3 linked regions of the Homo sapiens genome follow. The protein of the gene in region 3 interacts with the protein of the main gene of each other region in a biochemical or structural test. Each region holds a gene or a part of one and is shown on either strand. Other genes may lie near its edges.

Region 1 (4,268 bases), on a different chromosome or scaffold from region 3:
CCCAATGCTCTTCTTGAAAGCACTACTGCATTATTATTACAGACTAATAAAGCAAAACATTTTCACAGGGAGGAAAAAGCCACAATCATGGTTAACAATTTTCAAGTGTGTGAAGGGCTAAACTATAGGAAAAGCAGACTTACTTTGTGTTTCTCCAAGAATTAAATAGAAGTGGGTGATGGAAGCTACAGGGAAGCAATGTGTGCATGTATAGACAGGGTTCTTGAATTAGACAGAATGTTAAAACTAAGTGGATCTTCCAGGATCTCTCTGATTTTAGGATAGGAAGATGAAGTGAAGAAGAGAAGTCAGTATTTATTGACTATAATTGCACTTTATTAGACCAACAGCAAGACATTAGTGTTAATTTCAGAAAAGCCAGAATCTTACATAATCCTTAGATTATTATGAAGATACTAAATAAAAACAAACAAAACAAAATCCCCCAAAGACCTGTCTCCATAATAGAGATAACAAAACAAAACCGATTAAAAGATAGTTAGCTCCAAGGTATACATCTGGGAAGAGGTATAACTGCCTAATTTGCTCTTCCTCTGTAGAACTATTTGCTGATCATCTTCCATTGTCCCCTCACAACCACAGGCACTTCTCATGGCTAGAAATGCAGGGTCTTCGTTCCCCTTTCAGTGGATTCATAATTACCCTATTCAGCAAAATTGAATAGACATGGTGCTAATATTTAAAAAATCCTATCTAGTAAATGATAAAGCACCAAACTAGGGGGCTGGGAGGACGAGATCTATATTAAAAGATTTGTTCCCTTCTTTTTCCTTCTGTGAAGTCTAAGATTTTACCTATCAAATTTACTTGAACCTACAAAAGAATGTTAAAGTAAAGCTTAAGCTGTACTTTTTCTTGATTACTTCCTTTATCAATTGCCTATCTAAGAAGCAGGGAGAAAAAGACAAACAAAACAGAAGCTTTTGCCTAGAAGCAGAGAAGGAGTAAGTTTAGGTATAGGTTTACTCCCTAAATGCTTGTAGAACATCATGCACAATTCACAAAGTAAACTTTTATTAGAACAAGGTACTTCCTGTGATTTTAAGAAAGCGTAGATATTTAGATAGTCCCTAACTGGCTATAGCTGATTTGCCCCAAAATATTGAAACTTGATAAGCTCTTTATTAACATAATTTATCAACATCTTCATCCCAATGAAATAGTAATATTAATATTGAGTTCCTATCATGTTAGAACCTTCTCAGGAAGGTCTGATAAAATGCCTATTCAACTTGAAAACCTGCCTACAAAATAATGTTCGTCCCATAAAATACTAACACGTATCTCATACTTTCAGCTCGTATGTATCTTCCCTAAAAGACACGAAGTCCAAAATAAAATATAAATACTTTTGTTTCTGAAAAGAAAATAAAATTAAAAGAGTAAACAACTCACTGTTAGGTTGTCTCTAAGCAACTGCATGATGAGGGTGCTGTCTTTGTATGAGTCTTCATTCAGTGTATCAAGTTCAGCAATGGCCTCATCAAAAGCCTGATAAATATTAATATCCATGGTAAAATATGTGCATTGACGAAAACTGGTTATTCTACAATTACAAACCATTTTTACAAAATAAGTGAACACCCACCTTATGTTCTACCATCAACAAACTCAACAGAACCATTCTCTCACACTCCCAGTTTAAGAACTTATGAGTATGACTGGAATTTTATAAAACTATACACTTAGTAAACAAGCATGTCTTGGTTCTTTCACAGGACAACGGAACAGCAGCAATGCTTAACAGACTTCTTTCCAGTTAAGTAGTACTTATCTCTACAGGGTCCTCTTTATTCTCTCGTTTTGAGCCACTTTGAGGAATGTGGCTGATGCACAGCTATTCTAGTAACCAAACCTGGCAGGCATGACTTTCTAATCTTTTATGTTTCCTTCTTAACATCATTTATCCTTCTTTGATTACTCTGCTCAGTATGCTCTGTAGGCACATCACTGCTTATAATCATAGGGTAGAGTAAGGTGTCAGGGGTAGGAGTAGGTAATCATGATGGGAAGAAAAAGAGGAGATTTCAAAATAAATATAGTAGAAATCATCCCTGGGTATCCAAGTAAAATACCTATAAATTAACATACCTGGTATCTCAAATAACTGTAGCTAAAGTACGTATTTCCTGGACACACATCTTACCGTTTTAGCCAGCGTGCAGGCAAGCTCTGGGTTATTAAGAATCTCATAGTAAAATACAGAAAAGTTAAGAGCAAGCCCCAGGCGGATTGGGTGTGTGGGTTGCATCTCTTTCTTGCTTATATCAAATGCCTCTTGGTAAGCTCCTTGGGAATTATCTATCGTTTCTGTGAAGAGCGAAAAATAAGAAGTGCAATATTAAAAATAACCATCCAGTACACAGTACATTAACAACTTGAACATATGCTACTAGCTCTTGGTAGAACCAAGATTTTTTCTCTGTATGGGTCTTTTAAAATCATGGTAGCTAACAAAAAACATTATCGTGGCCAGGCGCGGTGGCTCACGCCTATAATCCCAGCACTTTGGGAGGCCGAGGTGGGTGGATCACTTGAGATCAGGAGTTCAAGACCAGTCTAGCCAACATGGCGAAACCCCATCTCTACTAAAAATACAAAAATTAGCCAGGCGTGATGGCGGGCATCTGTAATCCCAGCTACTCAGGAGGCTGAGGCATGAGAATCGCTTGAACCTGGGAGGCTGAGGTTGCAGTGAGCCGACATCACACCACTGCACTCCAGCTTGGGCAACAGAACGATACTCTGTGTCAAAAACAAACAAACAAAAACAATATTGTGTACTGGGTATTTAAGAACTTGTTTATGGCCAGGTGCAGTGGCTCATGCCTCTAATCCCAACACTTTGGGAAGGTGAGGCAGGGGGATCACTTGAACCTGAAGAGTTCAAGACCAGCCTGGGCAACACAGGGAGATCTTATCCCTGTCTCTACAAAAAATAATAATAATAAAAAATAGCTAGGCATGGTAGTGCGTGCCTGTAGCTCTAGCTACTTGGGAGGCTGAGGTGGGAGGACCCCTTGAGCCCAGGAGGTTGAAGCTGCAGTGAGCCAAGATCATGCTGCTGCACTCCCAACCTCAGTGACAGTTTGTCTCAAACAAACAAACAAAACAAAAAACCAGTTTAGAATGTTGCTTACATATAAACAGCTTAATGGAAAAAAAACATGAGATATTATAGTAAATCAGACTTTTTTCCATACCTAGGCTAAAACTATTTTCTTATTTTATGTCTTTTAATTCTATTACTTGGAAATGCAGCAATTAAAAATAATTTGACTGGAATAATTTACAGTGGCTCACGCCTGTAATCCTAACACTTTGGGAGGCTGAGGCAGGCAGATCACCTGAGGTTGGAGGTACAAGACCAGCCTTACCAACATGGAGAAACCCCGTCTCTACTAATAATACAAAAATTAGATGGGAGTGGTGATGCATGCCTGTAATCCCAGCTACTTGGGAGGCTAGGCACAAGCCTCACTTGAACCCGGGAGGCGGAGCTTACGGTGAGCCAAGATCGCGCCATTGCACTTCAACCTGGGCAACAAGAGCAAAACTCCATTCAAAATTAATAATAATAATAATAATTTGACTGGAATACCCTTTCCCTAAATAATGTAAACTTTACAAAGATCATCAACACCAAAATCTCTATTTTTCTGATTTGCAGAAATACTGATTCTTAGTATCAAGTGGTATTATTTGAAAGGCAATATAAAAGTTTCAATAAATAGGACAAAATCTGCTCTGACCAGAGTTTGATTACTAGCCTAATTAAAATGTTACTCCCCCTTCAAAAAATGTTCAGTATTACCAACACTAATCTGATTATACCCATGTTTTGAAAAGGGTAGTTTTCTGTATGAGGCCACTGGCCTATTACAGCTTTAGAGATACTGACGTAAGAGAATTAAGCTATCCCTTTATGACCTGAATTATGTTCATTTTCTTTCCTCTGAAATGGCACATTTATTGATCTAATCCCTGACTGGTACAGCCCACATGCAATAAGAAGTTCTTGCAGCTTGGCAAATTAGGAAGCACCAGTGTCTCAGCAATTAGGCTATAAAGACAGCCTATCTATGAATCGCAGCCTATCAGAATGTACACAGGACTACGTGTGAGACCTGAAAGTGCCAATGAGCTCCTAAGGGTTAAATCAGGTTAAAGCTACAGCTATGTCTCAATCTCCCAAATACTTCTCTTTGGCTTTCTGATACTTAAATGTACAGTTCCGTGCCCGTATC
Region 2 (4,268 bases), on a different chromosome or scaffold from region 3:
TGCGGCCAGTAGCGCACATCACAGGAGCCGTCGCCCTTGTCGTCACATTCGATCTTAGCCTGCGATGGCCCTTCCACCGAGAAGCCTGACAACAGCCACCAGTCCCCTCAGTGCCCTGGAGCCTCAGGGTGGGCCGTCCTTGCCATCGTCTGTCCCCAGGTGCCCATGCTGCAGCCTCCAACTTACCCAGCGTGCCCACGTCGTCCCCGATAGCCTCCACCACAAAGTCTGCTGACTTGCCAACGACGCCGCCCTCCAGCCCAGGGCCCCAGGCCCGTACCTTCTGATTGCCACACTCGGTGCCCACCTTCACTTCGAAGGGACTGCAAATGCGAGAGCCACACAGGGAACACCGAGGATCACCACATGAGCCAGCGTGGGCCCCACTGTGGCGGCCAGGCAGGAAGAGCCCATGTGGCCCCTCATCATCAGGTGGGGAGGCAGAAGGAAGAGAAGAGGCAGAGTGTGCAGAGCTGGGAGAGGGATGCCTGGGGGCCTCACCTGCGCCCGATGTTCTGACCACCCCACGTGATGGTGACGATATAGGTTCCAGGGACCATGGGGTAATACTCGAAGCCATACACGCCATCCCCCAGGTCCTTCTGCTTCACGCGCTCCTCTCCCTCTGCCAAGACAAGGAGGGCCTCAGGCCTGCCCAGCAGTGAACCCGGGGGCTGCCGCCACCCATCCTGGCCTGGCTCCAGGCCAACTTACTGGGGCCCTTCACGGTGACCTTCAGCTCCCCACTGCCAGCGCCCTTTGTGTACACCTTGAAGTCAGCTGTCTCCTTCACCCGCACACCCTTGGGCTGGAGGCCCCGGCCAACCGCCCGGCAGGCACTCGGGTTACAGGCTGCAGGCAGAGGGGCCAGCTGAGCACCAGCAGCTCGGCTGGGCGACCCCTCCCTTGCCTCCCACAGGGCCGGGCTGTCAGGATTGGTGGGTCCCTCAGAGCTTGGCTGGAGGGGGACATGCAAGACAGAACTGGAAGGGACTGTGACCCCAGGAACTGTGGCCTGGGCCAGGACATGGCAGGCCTCCTCCCACCTGCTCCACACCAGCCCAGAGCCCCCCACCCTCCCCCTTCCAAGAAGAAGACAGATCCAAGTACCGTTGACCCTGTGGGCAGAGCAGAGAGCAGCAGGTTTCTAGACAGCTGGAGCGAGCTCTTCCGAAGGTGAAAGCGTGAGGAGAGAGATGGAGAGGGGCGAGGAGAGGAGAGGAGGAAGGGCCCCAGCAGGGGAGGAAAAACAGCATGTGCCCAGACAGTAGAAGCTCAAAGAGTAGGGGCCCCGGGGCGGGCTGCAGCGGGACTGGCCCAGGGGGTCCCCCTCCTGTGGGAGGCCCAGACTGCAGTGCCACAGCAGAGGGCAGTCAGGGCCGGGCCTACCTTGGCCAACAGTGACAGTGTAGGGGCTGCGAGGGATGGGCACGCCGGCAAACGTGACGTGCACGGTGTGGACGCCCTCCATGGTGGGCTGGTAGCTGCAGCGGTATGTGCTGTCGCCCCGGGCCTCCAGCTGAGGCTCTACCGTGCCCTTCTGTCCCATGGGGTCCTGGATCACAACCTCGACCTCGCCCGTGCCAGCTCCTGCCACGAGGCACCTGCTCAGCTCCCAGGCCCCAGTGCGGCTCTCCCCACAGACCAGCTGGGCCTTGGCAGCCTCCCCTCACCTGCCGTAAAGATCTCAAAGTAGGTGGTCTTGTTGGCGATGTTGCCACTGGGCTCCAGGCCGGGACCTTGGGCTGTCACTTTGCTGGCGTCACCCTGTGACTTATCCACGTACACCTCGAAGGGGCTCTTGGCGATGTGCTGGCCAGCAAAGAGCACAGTAACCTGTCCCCAGAAGGGTGGGCCGTGAGGGTAGGGCTGGGGGCCTCCAGCCACTGCCTGAGGTCACAAGCCTCCCCCCTGGCCAAGGGCTCACCTTATGAGTCCCCGTCACCTCGGGGACGTACCAGACGGAGAAGGTGCGGTTCTTGTCGTTATTGGCGGTCACTTTTGCCTGCAGTGGGAAGGAGCCTGTGAGCCTTTGCTAAGAGCAGCCCCACTGAAAGGGAGCGCTGCGGGGCCTCTGCTGCCAGCAGCTGGCCCTACCTCCTCCTGGTGTCCGGCCGGGTCCTCCACGTACACCAGCACCTCTCCCTGGCCAGCACTTCTGGTCTCCACAGTGAACTCTGCCCGCTTCTTCACCATGTTGCCTGTGGGCTCGATGCCTGGCAGGGGAAGGCGAGCCAACCACGGGCCAGCTGTTAAGGCCACAGCCTCACCCCTCCACCCTTCAGCCCTCCCTGCTGGCCCCTAAGTCAGGCACATTCCAAACTGGGCAAGTTCATTCAGTGTGAGCTGTGGCACAGAGCCTGGCCTCGGGACCCAGCTGTGCTCTCGCTGCTGGGACAGGCCCAGCCTGTTTTCTGGAACATTCATTCTCACCGCACTGGGCCCTTGTTCCTGTGTGAGCCTTGACTGGGTTTTAGGTCCCTGTTACTGAGACCTGGTTCATCTCCATTTATAATAAAGACCGCTGGATGCTACCTCCCCGAGGACCCCACGCAGCAGGCTTCTGTGACTGGAGGAACCTATTAGCATTCTCTTGTCGTTTTCACTAGTCCCAAAAACCCACTCTTGTCTGACTCTTGGGTGGCTTGATCACCTAGCCGCCATGTAACCCAAGACCCCTGGGGACCGCCACGTTTAGATGGGACACTGTCTTATGGGGAAGACGTTGGCACACGGGTGCACCCCTGGTGGGGCTCCCTCACCTGGCCCGTAGGCACGGGCTTTCTTCGGGTTCAGTTTGGGCCGCAAGGGAGCCCCTGGCTTCAGCTTGGCCTTGGGGAACTGGGACAGGTAGGTCATGACAGAGTGCTCGTCCACGTTGGGGTCCACAATCTCCTCGGGGGTGATCACCTGTCACAGGCAGAAAACAGGAGCCATCGGGCCTCCGAGTCTCTCCCAACTGCCGATCCGGTCCCCTACAGCTGTAGCCAGGCCGGGCGGGTGTACCTGGGGGATGCCCAGCCAGTCATCCGCCTGCTGCATGGCCTCTCGCGCATTGGTAACGGGCTTGCTGGCGTCCCAAGAGTCCCAGTCAGGACACAGGCCTGTGGCGCAAGGGAGGCTGTGAGTCTGGGGGCCGCAGAACCCCCTCAAGGGCCACCCATGGGTGACCCCAGCCCAGTCTCTCCTGCCTCTGCGCCCCCTCACCCGGGGCACAGCTGTCCACCAGGGCGCCCAGGGCCCGGCCGCTCTGCCAGTCCCGGCTGAAGTTGGTGATGGGCAGCTGCGGCAGCTTGTTCTGGATCCAGCCCAGGAGCCTCTGCTTGGGGGTCTGCTTCTTGGCCTCCTCATCCTCCTCCTCGTCCCACATGGGCATGGAGATGGAGTAGTGCAGGATCAGGGTCCAGATGAGGCCCAGGATCAGCTTCAGGTTCCCGTCCACGATGGCCTTGCTGTCTGTGAGTAGAAGAGTGGCCACGCTGGGCACACGGCTGTGCGGGAGGGGCCGATCCCAGGCTTTGGGGTCAGGGTCTGGCAGCACGGGGTAGCAGGGGCCAAGGAGGAGGTAGACACCCCCTCTTGGCCAGTGGTAGGATGTGGATGAGGCCCTCTCTGCCCAGGGTCCCAGGGGGTGTTCAGAGGTGAAGGAGACTTTGGGGTGAGGGCAGATACACACAGACACACACACACGATGCCAGCAGGGTATGATTACTGCCAGAAGCCCTGGGCCCAGAGGAAGGGCAGAGGGCAGACCCAGCCTGCAGATGGGCAGCTCTGGAGAACAGCTGGACAGTGTCCACAGCTGCCAGAGCAGGGGTCCGCCACACACCTCAGGGGCCTATGGGGAACCAGGAGGAGGAGGCTGACTCCAGCTGGCCCAGAATCCAGGGCCCATGACCTGGAGTGGGGCTGGGGCTGAGGAAGAGGAAGGTGGGTGGCCCTGGGTGGTTGGGAAATACAACTGTTGTTCCAGGGTGGGTGGGGTGAGGCAGGGGAAGTGGGGGAGTTGGGCAAACGCCCTTTGGGTGAGGGATTGTGACCCCCGCCACCACCCCCACTTCCTCTACCACCTCGAAGACTCAAGCTTGGAGTTGGGAGGCCACAGGCCTAGCCAGGGGAGGGGCCCAGAGCCCAAAGGAACCAGCAGTTGGGCCACATGGCCCTGACTCACTGGGGCCCATCGGGAGATGCCGGGGTGGCAGCAGGAGACACTGGGAACCCCCTTGCCACCCACTGCCTGACCCACTTGCCACCTAACGGGCCTCTGG
Region 3 (5,036 bases):
AAGACAGGCAAACATTAAAGTCTTTATACCCTTGAGCTACTGAAAGTTACATGGGAGGAATTAAAGAGGATTATTAGCTTTCCTGATTATTCAGCTAAAGACATAATTATGGGATTTAAAAACTGTTCATTTTTGCTCAGTGAAGAGGCAATAAGGTATTCACAGCTGAAATGCAAAGTTGGACAGCTTAAGAAACATTCAGGAAGGAGTCCAAGGTTACCCAGTTTGGTCTTGGGCTGATAATGGCACTCTAAACATTGCAGGCTGAGCAAGTCAAAAGACACCTGATGCCAAGTGACATCTCAATGAGTGGTCGGTGGTAGGATAGAAGCCTTGATGGAGTGGGCTCCACTTCATTCTATAACTTGGAGGGTAGGGGCTGTGGGCCTATTAAGCATTTCACTCTAGGCCTTCCAGAGCCTTTGTTCAGAACCATGCTGCTTATTAAGCATCATTTGCTGTCTCAGTCAACAAGTTGGAAGAGAGGAGGCAAGGAACAGGGGCCACAGTGCAGACTGTTTTCTAATCTAACCGGGGAAGCAAAGCACCTGCATAGGCAGAATATTCCCATCAGGAACCTCCCAGGCAGTTACTGGTTCTGGATAGGAGATGGTGTGAATTCTTAGCATCACTGGGGGCCTGGAGGAGGGGCAGCTTTGCCAGCATAGACAGAGTGACCTTGGACAAAGATCTGTGTGTTCAGCAAGCAAATCCTCCATGTTTTCCTAGGCAATCTTAACATCAAATAGTTCATATATTTCTGCTTTACCAATCATCAACGTACCCCAGAAATGCCAATTCGTGCACTCACTAAACCTCCCAGACAGCCTCTTTAACCCATTTGCAGCACAAAAATCCATTGTCAGACCACAGCTTCTGACTGCTACTTGGAAAATTAAGGTGGCTGTGCCTATGGAGCCAGGAATAACTGGTGTTGTTATGACTTCCTCTCTGATAGTGGAGAGTACTTGGGTGTTACAGTGAGGACATGGTTCTCTCAGCTCTCTTATATGGCCAGCATATTACAGGCAGCTTAAAAGTGGCCACCTCGGGCCAGACCAAGAAAGGGGCTGTATTAGTCTGTTTTCACGCTGCTGATAAAGACATACCCAAGGCCGGGCACAGTGGCTCACACCTGTCATCCCAGCACTTTGGGAGGCTGAGGTGGGTGGATCACCTGAGGTCAGGAGTTTGAGACCAGCCTGACCAACATGGAGAAACACCATCTCTACTAAAAAATACAAAATTAGGCCGGGCGCGGTGGCTCACGCCTGTAATCCCAGCACTTTGGGAGGCCAAGGCGGGCGGATCACGAGGTCAGGAGATCGAGACCATCCTGGCTAACACGGTGAAACCCTGTCTCTACTAAAAATACAAAAAATTAGCCGGGCGAGGTGGCGGTCGCCTGTAGTCCCAGCTACTCGGGAGGCTGAGGCAAGAGAATGGCATGAACCCCAGGGGGCGGAGCTTGCAGTGAGCCGAGATTGCGCTACTGCACTCCAGCCTGGGCGACAGCAAGACTCTGTCTCAGAAAAAAAAAAAATTAGCCAGGTGTGGTGGCTCATGCCTGTAATCCCAGCTACTCAGGAGGCTGAGGCAGGAGAGGTTGCAGTAAGCCGAGATCATGCCATTGCACTCCAGCCTGGGCAACAAGAGTGAAACTCTGTCTCACAAAAAACAACAACAACAAAAGACATACCCAAGGCTGTACAACTTACAAAAGAAAGGTTTCATTGGGCTTACAGTTCTACATGGCTGGGGAAGCCTCCCAATCATGGTGGAAGGCAAGGAAGAGCAAGTCATGTCTTATGTGGCTGGCAGCAGGCAAAGAGAGAGAGCTTGTGCAGGGGAGTTTCTCTTTTTCCATCAGATCTCATGAGACTTATTCACTATTGTGAGAACAGCATGGGAAAGACTTGCTCTCATGATTCAATTACCTCCCACCAGGTCCCTCCCACAACATGTGGGAATTCAAGATGAGACATGGGTAGGGACACAGCCAAAGCATATCAGGGGCAAACTCCCCAAGAGGAATCAGTAGGGTACAACCATGGCATGGCTGGAAACTGCTGAGCAACTTTACTCACACAGGAGAATCACAGAACAAGCATGCCTTCATGCAGAAGGTGCCAATAGTCAGCTTAACATGAGATATACTTTGGGCTGTTCTCAAAGCAGTTCAGTTTCATGAAAACCTGTATTGATTACTTATGCAGTGCTGAGTACTGTAACTGAGGTCTATCCCAGCTCATGGAGCAAAATCAATTAATTTTCCCCCACTACCTGGTGTCTTATCCATTTCCAATTTAATCAGAGATGTGTTCTGTTCTTACTATGTGTCTGGCTCTGTGGACAGAAACTGAATGAAAGTGTCTGCTCTCAGCAGGTACACGGTCCAGCGGGGAGAGACAAAGAACAATAGTACAGTGAGGGGGATGCTGTACTGGGGAGGGCACAGGTATCTTAGAAGCCCAACAAGGGAGACACTTACTATCCCCTTCATGGTATTAATAATCAACATTGATAATCCTTCAGGGGAGTTGGGGAAGGAGTTGAAGGAGGAGCAGCTGTTGACTGGGCAGAAGAGGTAGAGAAAGTACATCAGGGAGTGCAGACCCTTTGGGAAGTAGCAGCAGCTCACTGTGACACTGGTGAGAGGAGGGCAATGAGGCTGTAAGTTAGGTGGGCTAGGCCAGCCGCAAATGGCCGTGGGAGCTGTGCTCTGGAGTTGGACACTGTTCTGGAGATGGAGGGCAGCCACTGAAGACAGGGAAACTCTTGGCAGTGGTAACAGTGGCTGGGGGAGGGAGCAGGAAAAGCTCTCAAGCACTATGGATAGTGTTTGCTCAAGAGATGATGAAGGCATGAAGTGGGGCAGTAAGAATAAGGAGGCAGGAAAGGGAGAAATTGAGAAATAGTGGAAGGTAAAATCATTAGGACATGTGGAATGAAAGAGTAGGAGGAACCAAAGATGACTTTCAGGGCACAGGTATCCGGGAGATGAAGAGAAAAAGGAGATCCAAAAACTAGCACCAGGTTAGCCGAGGGAATGAAAGGTCCCACAGAGGGAGTGGCCCTCAGTGTCACACACAGCACAGAGGAACATTTCCAGAGAATGGCGCCCAGAGGACTGAGGAAGGACGGGAAGCAATGGGGTAGAACCAGTAGATGTCCACAACTACATTAAAATGTCTGGCTGAAAAGGGAGGGAGAGAGGTAGTGATGAAGTTAGGAGGACATGAAGTCAAGAAAAGAGTCTTTTGTTCTTTTAAAACAGGAGACTTTGTGTATCGTGTGTGTGTGTAACATGGAGGAAGTTTCCAGAAGAGAGAAAGGAAGAGCTCAAAAATGCAAGAGATAAATATTAGCGAGGTGTAGCTCAAGGGTCAGGGCAGCAGTGGTGAGCCCAGGAGGGAAAGTTCTCAACGGCTCTCAGTAGAGTCAAAAGTGTGGCAAGTCCCTGGGAAGCACAATCTGACAGGCGTGAGGTGCCAACCCAGTGCCATGGGCTGTGCAAGACTCTGAGAATGTAGCAAAGAGTGAACACACTTGGCCTTACCTTTTAAGTTGGGTCGGTGCCCTGACCCTACCTCCCACCTTGCCTCCACTCCTCCCTGTCTGCCTTTCTCTGGTGCTATCTCTGAAGTCAACCCACCACATGCAGCAACAGACACTACAGATAGGATATCCCTGAAAAAAAAAAGACAATTAATCTAACCACTCACCCTGCCATCAGGAGCGGCACTGTTAGGAATGATACAGATCTGCTCCATAGAGGAACTGGGTTTGTGATAGGCAAGTAAAGGATACTGGTGTCTCCTGGGAAACATGCTGTGACCTCAATATGGGCTATGTATCTTGGTTATTGGAAATATATGTATTCTCATTGTTACAGACTTAATTTTTTAATACCAATGATTTAAGGAGCCAGACTTAAGTACAGAAAGGTCTGAAGAAGCGTTTCTTAAATTAAATCCAAACTCTTCAGTAAGACAAGGCCTGATTAAGAGTAGAATGTGTGCTAACTATTCAAAGAGCTGTAGGTTTTAAGCGCCTTTTGAAATCTCACTCTGCTGAGATCATTTAGTTCAAGTCAGTACTACAATTGTTTGTGACTGTCACCAATAAAGCCAGAGGTCACATAAGAACTGGTTAAATTGCAAGACTGCAGCAGTGGCAGGAATTGATGTCATTTAGATATAGTGTTATTATTATTTTTTTTTGTTCGGGTGCTGGGCTGTAGCGGACACATCAGGAGGTAGGAAAGATAGAACAGAGGATATGCCAGCAATTTAACATGCTCATGACCCTCCCCAGTGATGCTCTTAAACTGGTTAGGTTTCTGCAGACCCTGCCAGGATCACAGAAAAGGCCAGCCCTCTGTAGGATGCAGGAGGGGAGGGGTGCTTTTCTCCTTCCAGCAAAAGGAAGCAACTCCTACTTCCCTCAACCACCTTTCTCATGGTGGGCAATCCAAATTACTGAGCAGGGAGCCATGGCCTGACAGACCTGCTCTAAATACTCAATAAGTCAGGGACAGAAGGGGCCAATGTCAGAACCAGGAGGACCCATTTCTCCCCCATAGAGCCAGGAGTTGTCTCCCTTTTGCTTCCCTGTGCTGGAAATGAATGTTTATGATGGCTGCAAGGGACAATGTGTCAAAAATATTAAATGCAGTTTTCTAATCATAACCTGTTTTTCCCTAATATATAAGCTTTTCTTCAAAGGACACAATATTTTGAACAATGTATTCCAGAAAACAGCCACCACTACTGAAGTGAGTTAGAAAGTTTACTTCTTCTTAATAATGTTATGTTTCCCATATGATGGCTGGATACTCACAGTTGGAGGAGTTTCTTGTTTGTTTTTTTAGCTAAAAATCCTAGAGTTGGCCGGGCGCAGTGGCTCATGCCTGTAATTCCAGCACTTTGGGAGGCCGAGGCGGGTGGATCACTTGAGGTCAGGAGTTCGAGACCAGCCTGGCCAACATGGTGAAATACTGTGTCTACCAAAAATATAAAAAATTACCTGGGTGT

Evidence for each region. The genes of interacting proteins can lie anywhere in the genome.
Region 1: the proteins of MTNR1B (region 3) and YWHAQ form a complex in vitro, tested with the Homo sapiens proteins (one large-scale study listed by BioGRID).
Region 2: the proteins of MTNR1B (region 3) and FLNA form a complex in vitro, tested with the Homo sapiens proteins (one large-scale study listed by BioGRID).

The regions. Positions count from the first base shown.
Region 1 is NC_000002.12:9,585,998-9,590,265, forward strand, and holds part of YWHAQ (14-3-3 protein theta), read right to left. Parts: intron 2,332-4,268; coding exon 2,168-2,331; intron 1,513-2,167; coding exon 1,417-1,512; intron 1-1,416. UniProt on the Homo sapiens protein: Adapter protein implicated in the regulation of a large spectrum of both general and specialized signaling pathways. Binds to a large number of partners, usually by recognition of a phosphoserine or phosphothreonine motif.
Region 2 is NC_000023.11:154,364,635-154,368,902, forward strand, and holds part of FLNA (filamin-A), read right to left. Parts: intron 3,457-4,268; coding exon 3,208-3,456; intron 3,105-3,207; coding exon 3,007-3,104; intron 2,911-3,006; coding exon 2,763-2,910; intron 2,217-2,762; coding exon 2,098-2,216; intron 2,006-2,097; coding exon 1,928-2,005; intron 1,837-1,927; coding exon 1,674-1,836; intron 1,591-1,673; coding exon 1,390-1,590; intron 853-1,389; coding exon 715-852; intron 626-714; coding exon 502-625; intron 324-501; coding exon 187-323; intron 86-186; coding exon 1-85. UniProt on the Homo sapiens protein: Promotes orthogonal branching of actin filaments and links actin filaments to membrane glycoproteins. Anchors various transmembrane proteins to the actin cytoskeleton and serves as a scaffold for a wide range of cytoplasmic signaling proteins.
Region 3 is NC_000011.10:92,971,115-92,976,150, reverse strand, and holds part of MTNR1B (melatonin receptor type 1B), read right to left. Parts: intron 1-5,036.